Linked DNA regions of Homo sapiens: region 1 is linked to region 2. Evidence: fine-mapped expression QTL. A gene starts in region 2. The other region holds a variant in brackets. All regions are shown on one strand. Distances are from middle to middle. Region 1 overlaps GPBP1L1 (GC-rich promoter binding protein 1 like 1). Region 2 holds the start of TMEM69 (transmembrane protein 69).

What was found. PIP is the estimated chance that this variant, and not a neighbour inherited with it, causes the effect. A credible set is the group of variants that fine-mapping cannot tell apart.
Region 1: its variant is the best candidate, but not a certain one, in a credible set for the expression of TMEM69 in whole blood (INTERVAL, PIP 0.74).

The regions. Positions count from the first base shown.
Region 1 is chr1:45,639,868-45,648,516 of GRCh38, forward strand. GPBP1L1 (GC-rich promoter binding protein 1 like 1) reads right to left here. Exons shown (of 13, transcript NM_021639.5): 7 at 2,560-2,632; 8 at 343-536. It also overlaps the pseudogene RPS15AP10. Among named protein-coding and RNA genes, the nearest start is that of CCDC17, 20 kb to the left of the region's middle. The variant A/G (reference allele first, on the strand shown) is at 5,033.
Region 2 is chr1:45,683,049-45,691,697 of GRCh38, forward strand. TMEM69 (transmembrane protein 69) reads left to right here and starts at 5,133. Exons shown (of 3, transcript NM_016486.4): 1 at 5,133-5,227; 2 at 7,926-8,062. The coding sequence starts at 8,021. GPBP1L1 (GC-rich promoter binding protein 1 like 1) reads right to left here and starts at 3,485. Exons shown (of 13, transcript NM_021639.5): 1 at 3,364-3,485; 2 at 2,528-2,572. RefSeq lists enhancers at 3,101-3,699, 3,326-3,475, 3,536-3,585, 3,656-3,775, 3,796-4,125 and 1 more.

The DNA of each region.
Region 1 (8,649 bases), 43 kb before region 2:
GCTCCATCTCAAAAAAACAAAACAAAACAAAAAATAAAATAAATAAAAAAAATAGCCGGGCATAATGGCGTGCCCCTGTAGTTTCAGCTACTTGGGAGGCTGAGGTCACACTGAGCCATGATTGTGCCACTGCATTCCAGCCTGGGTGACAGAGTGAGACCTTGTCTCAAAAAAATAAAGAAAAAGAAAAAAAAAAAAGCAAAGAAAGCTGTATACATATAACAGGTACTGAAAGAATATCTGGTGACTGATGCGGCAAGAAAAAACAAATTTATTAATTTTTTCCTGATTTATTCCCAAACCTCTCTTGTATAAGGTTCTTGCCCTGATTCTAAATCATACCTTGGAAGGAGGTGGTACAGGCTTAGGAACCAGGTTCTTATAGACACTTGGAACCACGGATGACAATTTGTTCCCATTTGCATGGTGAGATCCTGGTGAGGTGAATGCAGCAGAGAAGGCAGCAGCAGGATCCTCTTTGGAAACTTTTTTGATAACTAGCATCTTGGAGGGTTGCTTGGCACTAGGCGGGTTTTCTGTGAAGTACAAGAGTGGAGAGACAACAGAATGTCAAACCTGTTGTGTAACATGAAGCATAGTTTATACAAAGGCCTTAGTCAACAAAACAGCTGACAGTTGAGACAGAGGGATTAAACATTCCCTGGTATGCACTTAATAGATACTCTCAAAAGTGAGACTACTCAGGAACTGTACAAAAAAATGCAGCATATGAGGAACTGGATACTAAATTTATAAATCAGCCAGGAAGTCCAAAGATGTTAGCAGTCCTTCAGGGGCACAATATGTCTGATGGACAGTGTGATCAGTTAAGCATGAACCCAACAAGAATAAATCCAAGCGCCAGGCACTGTGGCTCATGCCTGTAATCTCAGCACTTGGAGGTGCTGAGGTGGGCAGATCACTTGAGTCCCAAGAGTTCGAGACCAGCCTGGGCTGGCAAACCCTGTGGCAAATCCCCATCTTTACAAAAAATACAAACATTAGCCAGGCATGGTGGTGCACACCTGTGGTCCCAGCTACTTAGGAGGCTGAGGCGGGAGAATCACTTGAGCCCAGGTCGAGGCTGCAGCGAGCCATGACTGTGCCACTGCACTCCAGCATGGATGACAAAGTCAGACCCTAACTCAAAAAAACAAAAACAAAACAAAAAAAAACACCTAAAAGTAGCAGCTCCTGTCAGCATGAGAATAGAGAGATGAGGTAATCAGGGATTGGAGTCTGCCATGAAACCCTCTGATGAGGCAAACTGGAGCAAAGGTATACACCATTAGCAAAGAGGAGAAGGTACATCGATCAATCTTAATCCTACAATACTGGATTCTAAACCCATCATTTAGATATGTTAAAGACTTCCCATGTTCTTGGCTATCAACATGTCTAATGAAGAAACCAGGAGAGTCCAATTTGTAAATGCCAAAGATCCCAATGCCACAGATGAGGTTTGGTTTGAAATACAGATTCCTATCGCACCACTGCACTCTAGCCTGGGCGACAGAGTGAGATTCTGTCTCAAAAAACAAAACAAAACAAAACAAAAAACCACAAACATATATATACACACACATACACATAAACACACACACACACACACACACACACGAATATTTAAACATACATATATATGAATGTTTAAGAATATATTGTTATGGGCTGGGTATGGTGGCTCACGCCTGTAATCTCAGCACTTTGAGAGGCCGAGGCAGGCGGATGATGAGGTCAAGAGATCGAGACCATCGTGGCCAACATGGTGAAACCCCATCTCTACTAAATAACAAAAATTAGCCGGGCGTGGTGGCATAGGCCTGTATTCCCAGCTACTTAGGAGGCTGAGGCAGGAGAAAAGCTTGAATCCGGGAGGCTGAGGTTGCAGTGAGCTGAGATCTCGCCACCGCACTCCAGCCTGGCAACAGAGTGAGACTCCATCTCAAAAAAAAAAAAAAAAAAAAGTAAGTGAAGTAGCAATGTTAATTAAGTTACTTTTCATGAACTTTTTCTACTTAAAATCTGCTTCCATGTTGGCTACGGTGGCTCATGCCTGTAATCCCAGCACTTTGGGAGGCCAAGATGGGTGGATCACTTGAGGCCAAGAATTCAAGACAAGCCTGATCAACATGGTAAAACCCTGTCTGGACTAAAAATACAAACATTAGCCAGGCATGGTGTAGTCCCAGCTAGGGAGGTGGAGGCTGCAGTGAGCTGAGATTGCGCCACTGCACTACAGCCTGGGCAACAGAATGAGACTGTCTCAAACAAACAGACTAACAAACACCACCAAAACAACTGCTTCCAAATTCACGGTTCTATAAGTTCTCAGTTGTCTGTATTTTGACTCTACTACCATGGTAACATTTCAGTGGTGTTTGGGGGTTGGGCGGTGGGGTAGGGGGCAGAATAACCCGCTACAGTCAGATGTTAGTTACCATGGGCAAATGCATGAGATGAGAAACAAGAGATAAAAAGAGATAAGGAATCTTTGCTCCCCTCCCTGCTAAGAAAAAATTTTAAAGTTGTGCCTTTAAAATGGCAAAATCTACCTACCCCATACTCCAGAAGGTGTCCCAATAGGTCTGCATGGCTGATGCTGTTTGCCAGCTTCTGGATTCAAGGAAGGCTAGGAAAAAAGGGATATGAATGGTTGATACAGAAAGCTGATCATTTTGGCACTTTTCACAAAGTAGCCATCACCATGGAACCTATCAAATAATTACATATTTTACATATTAGCAACACTTACTAATTTGACACTGTATTCAGAAACGTAACAAACAGAAAATATCAAAACACAAAATCAATAGGTATTATGTTAATATTAGGTTCTCCTGAGTTTCATTTCCTTTGATATAAGGGATTTCATTTATTTTAAATAAACAGACTAAATGTGCGAATTCCCACTTTCCTATAGGATATGTATGCCAAATAAGGAGGCACTGAAAGTTAGATGAACAAGAATGTGGATCATTTTCCTCAGATTAAAGGAGGACAATGTGGTCAGTGAAATGTATAGTATTCACTGCATTTCTAAGATGGGTGTAGGGCAGGGGCAGACCATATGCCAAGGACTGTGCTAGAAATACAATAAAGAGCCCCTGTCTTCACACGGGTCACAGTTTTGCTATAAAAACTTCTAGACAAGTTAAGTACAATAAAAGGTTACAAGGACGATGAAAAAAATTCATATTAGGGAAGAAGGAGTACTCAGTAAGAAACATCAATTCTACTTGAAAGAGAAGTGCTATCAGAAAAGGCTTTACTAACAGGTGATTTAAGAATCCTTAAAGATGAATTCCAAAGCTGGAAAAACGGTAATTCCAGGAACAGAAAGCATTAAAAAGAACAGAATATTCAGGTCTGCAAATAGTTCAGCATGAGTAGTGCTAGGGAAGGAGGGGACCCTTCTGTGGGGAAAGAGGTATCTGGCAAAGCAGGCAAGAGCCAGCTTGTGGAGGATTTCTTAGGGGAGATTAAGTTTTATTCTACAGGTAATGAGGATCCATCTTTCATGCAGTTAACATTATCTAATTATCAACTTACAACCGTCACTCTAGTAGCAGCTTAAAGGATGGATCTGAGGTATTTAAACATCAACTAAGAGACCATTAGGAGATCAATTCCATAGTCCGGGAGGGTAATAAAGGTAACAGAAGTAGAGAACGAGATAAGGGAAAGGGCAGGGAAGAGTTAAGAGCAATAGACTAGACTTAATAACTAATCGTATGACACTGCTGTCCTAGCCCAAACTTTACGATCTGGTAACAGGGTAGGAGAATGGCTTTTTTTTTTTTTTTTTTTTTTTTTTTTTGTGACAGAGTGTCACTCTGTTGCCCAGGTTGGAGTACAGTGGCACAATCCTGGCTCATTGCAACCTCCACTTTCCAGGTTCAAGCAATTCTCCTGTCTCAGCTTCCTGAGTAACTGGGATTACAGGTGCGCACCACCACACCCAGCTAATTTTTGTATTTTTAGTACAGACAGGGTTTCACCATGCTGGCCAGGCTGGTCTCGAACTGACCTCAAGTGATCCACTCACCTTGGCCTCCCAAAGTGCTGAGATTACAGGCATGAGCCACTGTGCCCAGCAGGAAAATGGCTTTTCAGCACAATTGCCTGTGAACATTATACAAACAACAAAAAGACACCCAGGCTCCACTACAGAGCTTCAGAATCAGAATCTCCAGGGGCAGGGCCTCTAGCAGGTATGTATTTTCCAAGCAATCAAGGTGAGAACCACTACAATAGGAGAACAAGCACAAATGCAAATGAAACTACCAACTCTCTATATAAGTGGACAAATCAGTGACAGATTTTCAAGGACAGGTAAATACATTCCTCTAGATGGAGTGGTAGAGGCAGAAGGAGTGCCCAGCCATAAAAGCTGTGGTTGTTTCCTTGTTTCATTTTAATAGGCATGTTGTACCCAGGGTTCTCAGAGACAATGCTCCTATTTATACAGTATCTTTGATCTCTTTCTACTGTTTTAAAAAATACAGTTTTAAAACTTGTAAAATATAAACAGGAAAAATATAAAACAAATGAATAAGTTAATGGGTAAAAGTTCTTTTAAACACTACATGGTTTAAGCAACATAACATTACCAGACAAACCAGAAAGACATTACAAATCTCATTAGAAAAAAACCCCAAAACTACTCATACTTATGGTGATCACTGCATTTTTTTTTTTTACTAACCCATTGTGTCTCCCTTGACACTATAGTTTTGTCTCCAAAAACAATCTCAGCTTTTAATCTACTAGTTTTTAGAAAATCTTAAGCCTCTTTCTATAAATTGGTAGTTGGTTCTAGAGGTTACAGAATCCTTAGTGGTTTTGTATTCTTCCATTAGGAGACACACACAAATAACATGTGGTTGTGCTTCTTTTAGTGATGCTGGCAGACACTGGTGCTCATAGCCTAAAACTGTCAGCTCAATACAAGATGCAAAAACAATGATCTAATTTTACAATTCTTTATAAAGTAGTATACTTCCATAAATAGGAACTTCCCCTATTTGGC[A/G]ATTCAACAGTACAGTTCATATAGAAAAAATATGATACATGCTTGTTCCTAAGGTGAGGTAGGTATCATTGTGAATTCACAGATTTAAATCCAATTTGATGTGATTCAACCCTCGTCGTTATTATTATTAATTGATGCATAAAACTGTCCCATGTTTGGCCTATGGAACCCTCTTCAATTTGGCTTCTAAATCCTTTTGCTACAACCCTAAGTAGTTCTTTACTTCTTTGTTATCTAGTTTGAAAAAATATTCCAAGCTCTTCTTTTAAGTATGCTGTCTGGATAAACTATTTCAAGATCACAATCCAGGCAGTAGAGCCACTCATTGCTATGGGGTTGTTCACTGTTTTTATGTCTTTTCAGTGGACAGAACCGCCTAGAAGTATGTATTTTTCACTCCAAAGCTAAAACACCTCATAACTTATTACTGATATTCCCAATTCAAACTGAGTACCCTTGTGGATTTTACGGAACATCTATTTTACGTTTTTATTTCCTCCTACAAGAATCCTGATTCTCAAGCATACAAAGTATAGAATATCATATTTAATTGCTTTATTCCATATTATGCACAAGTTTCAGAATAGCAATGTCAGTATTTCACCAGTGACCAAAATGTTTTGTTTTTTTTGGACATGTTCTCCCCATCTTCCCACTTTAAAAAAGTTATACTATGTCCAGATTGTGAGATCATATAACTATCACATGCTAACTCTCTTTTAACCCTCATTTCTTCTTAGCTCTACAATTAACCATACATTTAGTATTTACCACCATTCCTTTTGTAATCTTTCTGGTTAGTTTGTCAGAAGCTTGTTCTTCAGTAGTTCTCAGGAAAAGTCTTGGGAACGATATTCCGAAGTTTTTTGTTTTTTTTTTTTTTGAGGCATTTTATTTGTAAATATGTATTGCATCCCTAGAAACAAAATCCAAGGATTTTCCCTCCTGTGTGTTTTCGTCTTGCTTCTTCATGGTCCATGATACCAGCTAAGGCTGTCAATATGACGAAGTCAAATGGTTGGGATAGAAGCAGATTGTTCTGCCGTTTTTCTAGATCTTTGAGTTGCAAATCAAAGCTGGGGCTCTACACTTGTTTAGCCTGCCTGTGAGGTTCACAATTTTCCCAGCTCTGTTATCATCAATGATTTCAAATTTGCCAATGTAACGATGCTTCATCATCACAGCTAGAAGTTGGACAATGACTTTGGAGCATGGCCTAGTAAGAACCGGCGTTTCCCTCTCTTTTCGGCATTGGTGATACTCTTGAGAGCAACAGGTAGGATGTTCACACACACCATTGTGGCAGCGCGAAACAATGCCGGAAAGAGCAATATTCCAAGTACTTACACATTGATGTTTGTCTGTGATCTTTATAACTGAACATTAGCTTGACAAAGCACAAAATCTTTGGCTCACATTTTCTTTATTGTAATTGTTACTCCATTTACTTGTTATAAAGCTTTGCTGTCACAGTCTATCTGGTTTTCTTTCTCTTAACAACTCAGTCTTTATGCCTGAATGGCCAAAGGATATCTTTCTTTTTTTGTTCAAGTCTAGTATTTTGTAAGAGTATGTCTTAGTCATCCTGGCTATCCTTTCAATTTGTAGATTCAAATCTAAATGTATTTCAGAAAAATGTTCCTGAATTATACTTTTCAGTATTTTTTTTTTTTTTGAGACGGAGTCTCACTCTGTCCCCAGGCTGGAGTGCAGTGGCGCGATCTCAGCTCACTGCAAGCTCCACCTCCCGGGTTCACGCCATTCTCCTGCCTCACAGCCTCCCGAGTAGCTAGGACTACAGGCGCCCGCCACCATGCCTGGCTAATTTTTTGTATTTTTAGTAGAGACAGGGTTTCAACATGTTAGTCAGGATGGTCTCGATCTCCTGACCTCGTGATCTGCCCCCCTCGGCCTCCCAAACTGCTGGGATTACAGGTGTGAGCCACCGTACCCGGCCACTTGTCAGTATTTAAGCTATTCCTTTATTTTGGTTTTCTTTCTGGGGGCGGGGTGGGAAGATCCTATTATATATCTATATTAGATCTTTTCTGCCAAACTTTTTTTTCCCAGTTTTAATTTTTTACCTATGTATTTCTCCTTCATTTAAAAAATTTTCCTTCGCTGTCTAATTCTTGAAAAATATTATTTATTCTCTTTATTCTTCAGTATTTTTCTGAAATTTTTTATTATTACTTCTTTTCAAGAGTTCTAGCCCCTTATTTTGAGTTTTCCCAGATGATTTTTTTTTTTAAACCAACTTCTTAGGATTTTTTTTTTTTTTTTTCTGAGACCAAGTTTCATACTCTTGTTGCCCAGGCCGGAGTGCAATGGTGCGATCTTGGCTCACTGCAACCTCTGCCTCCCGGGTTTACGTTCTTTAATGTCCTGGTTATCTTCTCCCTACCGCTTTTATCTGAACCTTTCCTTTCGTCTCTACTAACTTGTCTCTCTGCAGCTCAATCTGGATTATATTTCCAACAGTTTGTCCTCAGTGACGGGCTTTGTTCTGGAAGGGTATAGTGGCCAGCTAGCATGAACAACGATAGAACCCTGTGCTGGTTACCGCTTCTTAGTCACAAAGTCATCCCTTCTGCCTGTTGAGCAAAAATGTGCCTGGACACTTTAAAACTTTTCCTTTGACAGCTGGCATGTTAACTTCTGCCAGCGGAGAACAATGGAGAGATTTTTACTTCCTGTTCCTGTGTGTTTTTCAGCAGGCTCCCACAGCACCCAGTTCCTCAAAGCCAGGTTCTGACATATAAGTGAGCTCAGAGACCAGCAGCTTCCCTCAGCACCTCATCTGAGTAGTTTTGTAGCAGAGTGACACCTCTCATGAAAAGCCTTTCAGCACGCTTCCCCAGAGAAGCACATCAGCAATTACTCTGCCATTCAGTGAGCCACAACTGAGCCCTTTCTAACCAGGTATGAATCTCAGCCCTGGGGTGGTGGTAGGGAAATGGGGGACTCATTCTTGGACACACTGTCTTAGCCCTAAGGGTAGTGGCTGCTCCTTGTATGTATGCATATATGTCTGTGTGTATGTTTTTTTCTTTTTTTTTGAGACAGGGTCTCACTCTGTTACCCAGGGTGGAATGAAGTGGTGCCATCTGGGCTCACTGCAGCTACGACCTGCCAGACTCAAGCAATCCTCCCACCTCAGCCCCCTGAGTAGCTGGGACTACCAGGTACCCACCACGTCCAGCTAATTTTTAAATTTTTTGTAGAGACAAAAGTTTCACCACGTTGCCCAGGCTGGTCTCAAACTCCTGGACTCAAGCAATCGCCCTGCCTCGACCTCCCAAAGTGCTGCAATCACAGGCGTGAGCCACTGAACTGTGACTACGTGCTATTTCTATTTTCTTTAAAGATCTTTTTACTTTGTACTAGTCAATCCTTCATTACTCCAATCTTGCTATAGTTAAATTCCTTATATTAACTTTCTCTATTCAAACTACTGTGTGGTTTGAACTCTTGACTGGTCCAGTCAGATCCTTCATACCTTATCCCAGAGCCCCTGTATTTACTTGTTATTCCATTACGGAAAACTACTCCCGATTAACTGCTGCTCTTCTCAAATATGCCCTACGAGCTTTCCAGAAAAACGGTTGGCTCTGTTA
Region 2 (8,649 bases):
TCCCATTAGTTTTTTTTTTTTTAGTTGGAATCCTTTAAAATTTTGTCTGCCTTTCATCTTTTAGACCAACAGTCTTACTTTCATGTTTAAAGGCAGTGACCATAACAGTCAAGTTAAACACAACAACTTAGATTGCCTAAATTTGAATATAGGCCTTTTTTTTTTTTTTTTTTTTTTTTTTTTGAGAGGGAGTCTCGCTCTGTCCCCAGGTTGGAGCGCAGATCTCGGCTCACTGGAAGCTCTGCCTTCCGGATTCATGCCATTCTCCAGCCTCAGCCTCCCGAGTAGCTGGCACTACAGGCGCCTACCACCACGCCCAGCTAATTTTTTGTATTTTTAGTAGAGACGGGGTTTCACAGTGTTAGCCAAGATGGTCTCCATCTCCTGACCTCGTGATCCGCCCGCCTCGGCCTCCCAAAGTGCTGGGATTACAGGCGTGAGCCACCGCGCCCGGCCTGAATATAGACTGTTACCTACCAGCTGGATGAATCTCTGGACTCCTTTTCCTCAACTACAAAATAGGGTATAAAACAGTATCTACTTAGACCTGGCGCTGTGGCTCACGCCTGTAATCCCAACACTTTGGGAGGCCAAAGTGAGCAGATTGCTTGAGTCCCTGAGTTCGAGACCATTGCTTGAGTCCCTGAGTTCGAGACCAGCTTGGCAATAGGATGAACCCTCCCCCTCCTCTCTAATAAAATACAAAAAAAAAAAAAAAAAAAAATTAGCTGGGTGCGGTGGCACGCACCTGTCGTCCCAGCTACTAGGGAGGTTGAGGTGGGAGGACTGCTTAAGCCTGAGAGGTGGAGGCTGCAGTGAGCTGAAATCATGCCACCGCACTCCAATCTGGGTGACAGAGTGAGACCCCGTATCAAAAACAAAACAAAACAAATAAACCAGTATACTTATAAAAGTAAACAACAAGCCGGGCGGGGGCGGTGGCTCATGACTATAATCCCAGCACTTTGGGAGGCCAAGGCAGGCGGATCACCTGAGGTCAGGAGTTCAAGACCAGCCTGGCCAACATGGTGAAACCCATCTCTACTAAAAATACAAAAAATTAGCCAGGCGTAGTGGTGAGCCCCTGTAATACCAGCTACTCGGGAGGCTGAGACAGGTGAATCGCTTGAACCCAGGAGGCGGAGGTTGCAGTGAACAGAAATCAAGCCACCGCACTCCAGCCTGGGCAACAAGAGCGAAACTCCGTCTCAAAAAAAAAAAAAAAAAAAGAAAAAGAAAAGAAAAGAAGGAAAAAAAAGTAAGTAACAAATACAAAGCACTTTAAACAGCAGTCAGTCCCTGGCACATCAGAGTTATAGCCATAAAATAAAGATATGCAATCTTCTGAAGTATGATTCACGATTGTGTCTTATCTTTAACTCAAAATTAAAAATGAATTACAAGCAGAAATGTGCACCAGATTTCTTATCATTCTAAATTTAAATGGTTGAATGTGTCCTCCTCAGCTAAGCATTTTAACAGCCACTGATGAGCAATCTAGTAAATTGAATTCGCTCAAAATAAAGGTTTCCCCAAGAGTTCCCCCCACACCACAAATCAAGAGCTCTGATAAAGACACCATCCAGAATCAACTGAATGTTTATATTAACATGTACAAACCACTGAGTACCCCCCCAAAAAATCAATATCTCACTCCAGTTTAGTAGTTAACAGTGACAAAACACAAAGCAACTAGCTTGTAATTTCTATTAAAAACTTTAAATATTTTTCCTGTAAAACCACCAAAATAATTTAACAACAACAACAAAAAATCCTAGGGGTATTAACAAAAACCAACTTTTGTATTTGAAAAAACGTCAAAAGGTACATTGAAAACTGACTCCCTAGGAAAGATGAGTTTATTTTACTATTAATTTCAAAGTTCTCATTCACAATTAGCATTTCACTCTTTTATCTTTTAAATAGATACAGGCTTCAGCACCTTTCCAAATATTGAAATTTATTGGTTTTGGTTTCCAATCTATGACTTTTTGTTTAAACTTCTGGATCTATCGATTAAAAAAAAAAAGCAAACAAAAGACAGTCTCTTGTTCAAAAGGGCACGACAATCAGGTACTCCATACCTAAAGTATGTTTTCACTTGTTAAAATGTCTTACACTATTCTAGTAAATATCTCAAACTTAATAGCACCCTAATTTCCTTTCAAATATTGGATAAAAAAGACCTTAGAAAAGATCAGCAGTCTACTAAATTACAAATATAAGTCTAATGAGGAGTGACTACCAATCACTTTACTTTTGGATAAGATTTACACAAGAACACGACTTACTACTAAACTAAAACATGAACCACTATTATTAACTGTATTTTTCTGGTAAGCAATAAATGTCAATGTTAAAAATATTTCAACAAATATGACAAGCCAACTTCAGAGCACGAAGTTGGCAGATAAAATTGACACCACAGCACAATTTCAAAACTATAAGCAACTATTAAACACACACACCACCGCACCGCACCCATTCTTATGTAAACTTTTGGAATAGTCAACTTTGTGAGCCTCACCTTTGTTTTCACCCAGCATAAGGAGAGTTAAAGGTGAGACACCAACTGCAAAAAACCAAAATATCAAAAGATTCAGTTAATGTCCCCACAGGGGAAAGGACTAAAATCTTTAAACGTTAATGTATTTAAGTAATCGAAGGGCAGGGCACTTCCCCAAGCTACAGCCATTTTGGATTCAGACTGTCTTTCGAATTTCACGGGTTGGGGAGAACTAGATTTAAAACAACAGAAAAAAAATAACACTTAAAACATTTCAGGATCGACCAGCTTTCCCTGCCCCTCCAAGGAAAGGAGGTTGGTAGATATCGGATAGACTCAATCTAAGCGAAAACACCTCGCTACCACAGAGAACCGGAAAGCTGGGGGTTAAAACTTTTTTCCCCTCAGATATCCAACATTTGACTTACACTTTTTCCTCCTTAGGTTTTCCTTTGAAGGAAAACAAAAGCCCTTAGCTCTCATTTCAAGAAGGAAAGAAAAAAACCCGTAAGCCAAGTCACTCAACGAGCACCAAGCCGGATCGCCTGGAGAGGAGCCAAAGAGCCGCAGGTGAGCGTTCCGACCCGACGACCGAAGTTAAAGTAGGAGCGCTTTCGCGGAGCCCCGGCGACGCTCGCGTGCAAAGCTCCATGCACGGGGGAGGCGGGGGTGCCGCATCCGAACCACTTGACCCGTGGGCTCCGCTCGCCCCTCTCGGGTCGGACCTATACCCAACCACCTGTGTGAGAGCTTCTTTCAACTAGTTTTAACAGCCCGTTGGTTAGGCACCGGGCGGAGCCCCGCGCCAGAACGACTCCAGGATCTCCTACTGCCCCGTTTCCCAAACTCCCACTCACCGGGCAGCGGCGGAGCTATGGCCAGGGACTAGACGCTGCGTCTGAGGACGCGTCCCCAGCTTGTCGACCCGGCAGAGGCGGCTAGTCCACAACCATAACAAAGCTCTTCCCAAAATGGCTGCCCGGCCCACAAGGTCCAGGAGGGGCAGAGCGGGTGGAGGAGGAGGAGCGACCAGCAGCACGGCCCTCCCATCCCCCGTCCGACCCCGCCTTACACACGCCCACCTGAAGAAGCGCATGCGCAAGGGACTGCTCCGGCGACCCTCCCGGACGCCAGTTCCCTACGCTGCCAACGTTCGGCCTCCAGAACGGCGGTTATGCCCTGCCCCGCCCCCGGCTCCCTTCTTCGCCGCTTGAGGCGGCGCATGGTCACCTCTGCCCCCTACAGAATTGAATCCTCTGCCTTTCCTCGTGCCGCCTGAGGCACGGACAAGCCTAGTTTAGTACGCCCCTTCTAACCCCCTTGCCCACTTCCAGGGCCTGGGCGCGTATGAATGAGTGGGTGGGTATGCATGTGTGTATCCCTTTTTTCTTCACCCTCCCACAGCCCGCCCCTTGGCCAGTGCGCGTCCCGAAACTACCTCTACAAGGACTTGCAAACCGGTTTCGGAGGAACGTGTGTTTTCCGGCCCTTTCCCACCTTCCGCTCCTTACTTCTCGTGTGCGCGTCGTTGAGACTCCAGTCCCCAGCGGGCCACACGGCCTGGCCCCGGAGGCTGCGCGGCTGCGTCGGCCGCGCTACCCGCTGGGAGTAGTAGTTCCCCTGGAGCGCAGGCGTCACTCCCCCGCCCAAGCGAAGGGCGGGATTCCGGCGAGAGCCTGCGCTTGCGACAGTGCCGTTTCTCCTACCTGAAGTCTCATTGGGTATCGCACTACTGGAAGGGGCGGCGCTGCCATGACAGAGAAGGCAATAAAACTGAAGGCCTAGCTCGACTAAAAGCGCTTACTATTAAGGAAGACTTCGCTGTGGCTCCATCCGGCACGGAAAGCTAAACCGTGTAATGGCTGGCAACCAGGAAGCTAGACTACCTAGAATCCGGAGGATTGGAGGGACTGGCCGGCGTGGGCCCCTGAGATCTCCTACTACATGTCTTCAGTTTTATCCATAGACACGGAAGGGCACTAAAATTGCCTGGTGCCATTTCCTGTGAAACAAGTCTAGATAAGAGAAGGGACTTGCCCAAGGTCACATAGCCGAGAAATAAAGCCGAGGGCAGTAGGAGAAATGATCTGACTTTCCGAACCACCCCCAAGCCTAGGGCCCTTATCACCACACCTTTCATGGAAGTGAAAATCCTGCTCTTGTGCTCTTTAACCCTTAATGAAGTTTATAGGTCCCAGCAAAGAAAATGGATGTAAGAACTGGGCTTTTTTCCCCCTCTAAATGATAGTAAAGGGCCCTAATGCAGTGAGATGTGTCCCCATAGGCCTTATAAACCCTGTTTTGCAAAGTAAAACATAAGTCCCACAGATGGCAAGCAATTCAGGTCACACTGGGCCTAAAATCCCGTCTCTTACCTTCCTTCACCACCATCATTCTGAGATTGTTTCAGTACTTGCACTCTACTTACCCGAACTCTGTGGGCAGATTCTGCTGCCTGGGAGCCCTGGAATAGAACTTCAAGGACCGTTCAACATCTGGATTCAACTAGAAATTAAGAATGGCCCCCAAACAGAAAGCCGGGCCTAGGAACCAATTAGCGCAGGTCAAGTCCCTACCCGGACTCATTTTTTTTCAGCCCTCAGGAAGTAGGGGCCTCTCTGAATCCACTTGCCGGAAGTGCCTTTCCAGTGGACCTGGGCTGTTGTTGCGGTTGTTTTCCTTCTCTCCGTGCAACGCTGGCAAGTCTCAAAGTCGCCACAGGTGCAGGTTGGGATGGGAGGCACCAAGGGTTGGTAGTAAATTTGCGACGTTGGGATGGGAGGGCACCAAGGGTTGGTAGTAAATTGGAGACGCGGGCACTCTCGGGCAGGGTTTCCCGAAGACACTGGCGTCTAAACCCCGCCTTCCTTTCTCAGAGGTCAGTTTGAAGCTGGCAGTTTGCAGTCTTCCCACCAGGGCAATGGGAATATTGAGCTTTTTCATTTATATTAGGAGGATTAAGCTTTGAGTCTCAGTCCTTAATCCCGCATCACCTGCCGTCCCTGGACTTTTTAGGTTATCACTTTTTAATACCCACTAGTTGGAAAGCACGTGCCACAGAGGAAAGGGAGTTTCCAAAGATGGGGGGATGGTTGAGATTTTAAATGGAGTGGTCTGGAAAGTCCTTAAGAAGAAAGTGATTTTGAACAAAAGTGATGGGTACGCTCTGCGGGCATTTTGGTCTGGGGCTCAGGTGGGTGGGTGTGGGTGTGATCTAAATTCTACTCGGAGGCCCAGGATTACTTACCTCCCTACTTGCTTCCTTAAGTATAGTATGAAGACATTAACTGGTATACAGGATTTCTTGACCCAGCCCTAAGATCTGTGATCAATAAATTAGTTCAATCGATTTTTTTTTTTTTTTTTTGAGACGGAGCTTCGCACTGTCTCGTGGGCTGGAGTGCAATGGCGCGATCTCGGCTCACTGCAACCTCCGCCTCCCAGGTTCAAGCAATTCTCCTGCCTCAGCCTCCCGAGTAGCTGGGATTACAGGCGCCTGCCACCACGCCCAGCTAATTTTTTGTATTTTTAGTAGAGACGGGGGGGAGGTTCACTACGTTGGCCAGGCTGGTCTCGAACTCCTGACCTCGTGATCCACCCACCTCGGCCTCCCAAACTGCTGGGCTTACAGGAGCGAGTCACTGCGCCCTGCCCAATCGATTTTTTAAAATTAAGCAGCAACTGTAGGTTTTTTTAGACATCCCATTCTCTTGGTTAAGAATGAAATTGTCAGATCTAGATCCATATTATCATTCACCTGTTTTTACTGGCTGCTTACATTAGAGTTTTTAATCAGTCCCTCCTGTGTAAAGTGCTTTGTGTCAGGGACGGTTCTCAGCTATTTACATGTAGTAACTTATTAAGTGTTATATCAGGCTAAGTGGCACACACCTGCAATCCCAGCACTTTGGGAGGCCGAGGCAGGTGGATTGCTTGAGCTCAGGAGTTCAAGACCAGCCTGAGCAATATGGCAAAACCCCTTCTATACAAAAAATACAAAAATTGGGGCCAGGCACGGTGCCTAATGCCTGTAATCCCAGCACTTTGGGAGGCCAAAGCAGGCGGATCACGAGGTCAGGAGATCGAGACCATCCTAACATGGTGAAACTCCGTCTCTACTAAAAATACAAAAAATGAGCTGGGCGTGGTGGCATATGCCTGTAGTCCCAGCTACTCAGGAGGCTGAGGCAGGAGAATGGCATGAACCTGGGAGGCGAAGCTTGCAGTGAGCTGAGATGGCACCACTGCACTCCACCCTGGGCGACAGAGCAAGACTCCGTCTCAAAAAAAAATTGGCTGGGCATGGTGGCGTGGCCTGTAGTCCCAGCTCCTTAGAGGGCTGAGGTGGTAAGATCCCTCGATCCCGGGAGGTCAAGGCTGCAGACAGCGGAGAGCACGCCACTGCAGTCCAGATTGGGTGACAGAGCGAGACCCTGTATCCAAAAAAAAAAATGTTACATCAACCCTATGAATTAGTATCCATATTTCAAAGGTGAATGAACTGCACCATAACAAGATTAAATAATTTGTTCAAAGACACACAGCTAATAAGTAGTGGAGCCAGGATTCCAACCAAGTTTGACACCAAAGTCTGCACTCCAACAGGCTATTCTCTCTCAGTACTAAGTTAATGAGGTTATTTTGAGCATTAAATGAGTTAATGCTCACCGGGCGCGGTGGCTCATGCCTGTAATCCCAACACTTTGGGAGGCCTAGGCAGTTGGATCACCTGAGGTCAGGAGTTCAGGACCAGCCTGGCCAACATGGCGAAACCCCATCTCTCCTGAAAATACAAAAATTGGCCAGACATGGTGGCAGGAGCTTGTAATCCCAGCTACTTGGGAGGCTGAGGCACAAGAATTGCTTGAACCCGGTAGGCAGATGATGCAGTGAGCCAAGATCGCGCCACTGCACTCCAGCCTGGGCGACACAGCAAGACTCTTGTCTCAAAACAAACAAACAAATTAAAAAAACCTAAATTATATTGGTTGGTACTATCGTTATTTTGAGTTGTGAACTCTTAAGCCCCAAAATAGGAGGAAAAAAGGAAACAGAAGCTATGACCTTCCAGTTTTGTTTTGGTTTTTTTTTTAATTTCACAAAAACACCACTTAGAAGACCCTTCATTTTAAAGATGAGAAAACCAGTACTCAAGCAATTTGCCCAGTGTCACACAGCTAGGAAATGGTGGAAGTATCTGTAAAATCTCTATGTGCATTACTCTTTCTATTACACTAGACAGCCAAAGCTAAAAGAACAGTTCAGATACTAAAAGGATCTATTTTGTTACTGTGTTACCGACAGTTTGAAAACATTAATGATTCTTTTCAAAGGAAAGTGTTATATTCATGAATTACTACTATTTAAAAATTAATGTATAAAATGAGGAAAATTAAGTGACACCTTGTGTTATACACAGAAACATGCCCCTGATTCAGTGCCTCTGCTTAGCTGTAACATGTTAATCAGAACTACCTGGCATCTTCCTGAACAAGACTTTCAATAGGGGCCAGTATGCTTCGCTTCATCCAGAAGTTTTCTCAAGCATCTTCAAAGGTTGGTTTGTTCAGCAGATATTTGAGCACTATTTGCCAAATATTGCTTGGGCTAGGTCAGTAGCAGTGAAAAAGACAAAAATCCTTACCCTTGTATATTCAGGTGATGGAGGGAAGAGTTAAGTAAAATACAAGTAAGTAAAATGTTTATTATATCAGGCTGGGTGCAGTGGCTCACGCCTGTAGTCCCAGCAATTTGGCAGGCCGAGGTGGGTGGGATCACTTGAGCTCAAGGAGTTCAAGACCAGTCTGGGCACATGGCAAAACCCCATCTCTACAAAAAATTAGCTGGGCATGGGGTCACACGCCTATAGCCCCAGCTACCTGGGAGGCTGAGAGAGGAGGATCGCTTGAGCCCAGGAGGTTGAGGCTGCAGTGAGCTGAGATCATGCCACTGCACTGCAGCCTGGGTGACACAGCAAGACGATGTTTAAAAAAAAAAAAAATTGGCTAGGTGCCGTGGCTTACGGCTGAAATCCCAGCACTTTGGGAGTTGAGGCAGGTGGATCACTTGAGGTCAGGAGTTCAGTACCTGCCTGGCCAACATGGTAAAACCCTTGTCTCCACGGAAAAATACAAAAATTAGCT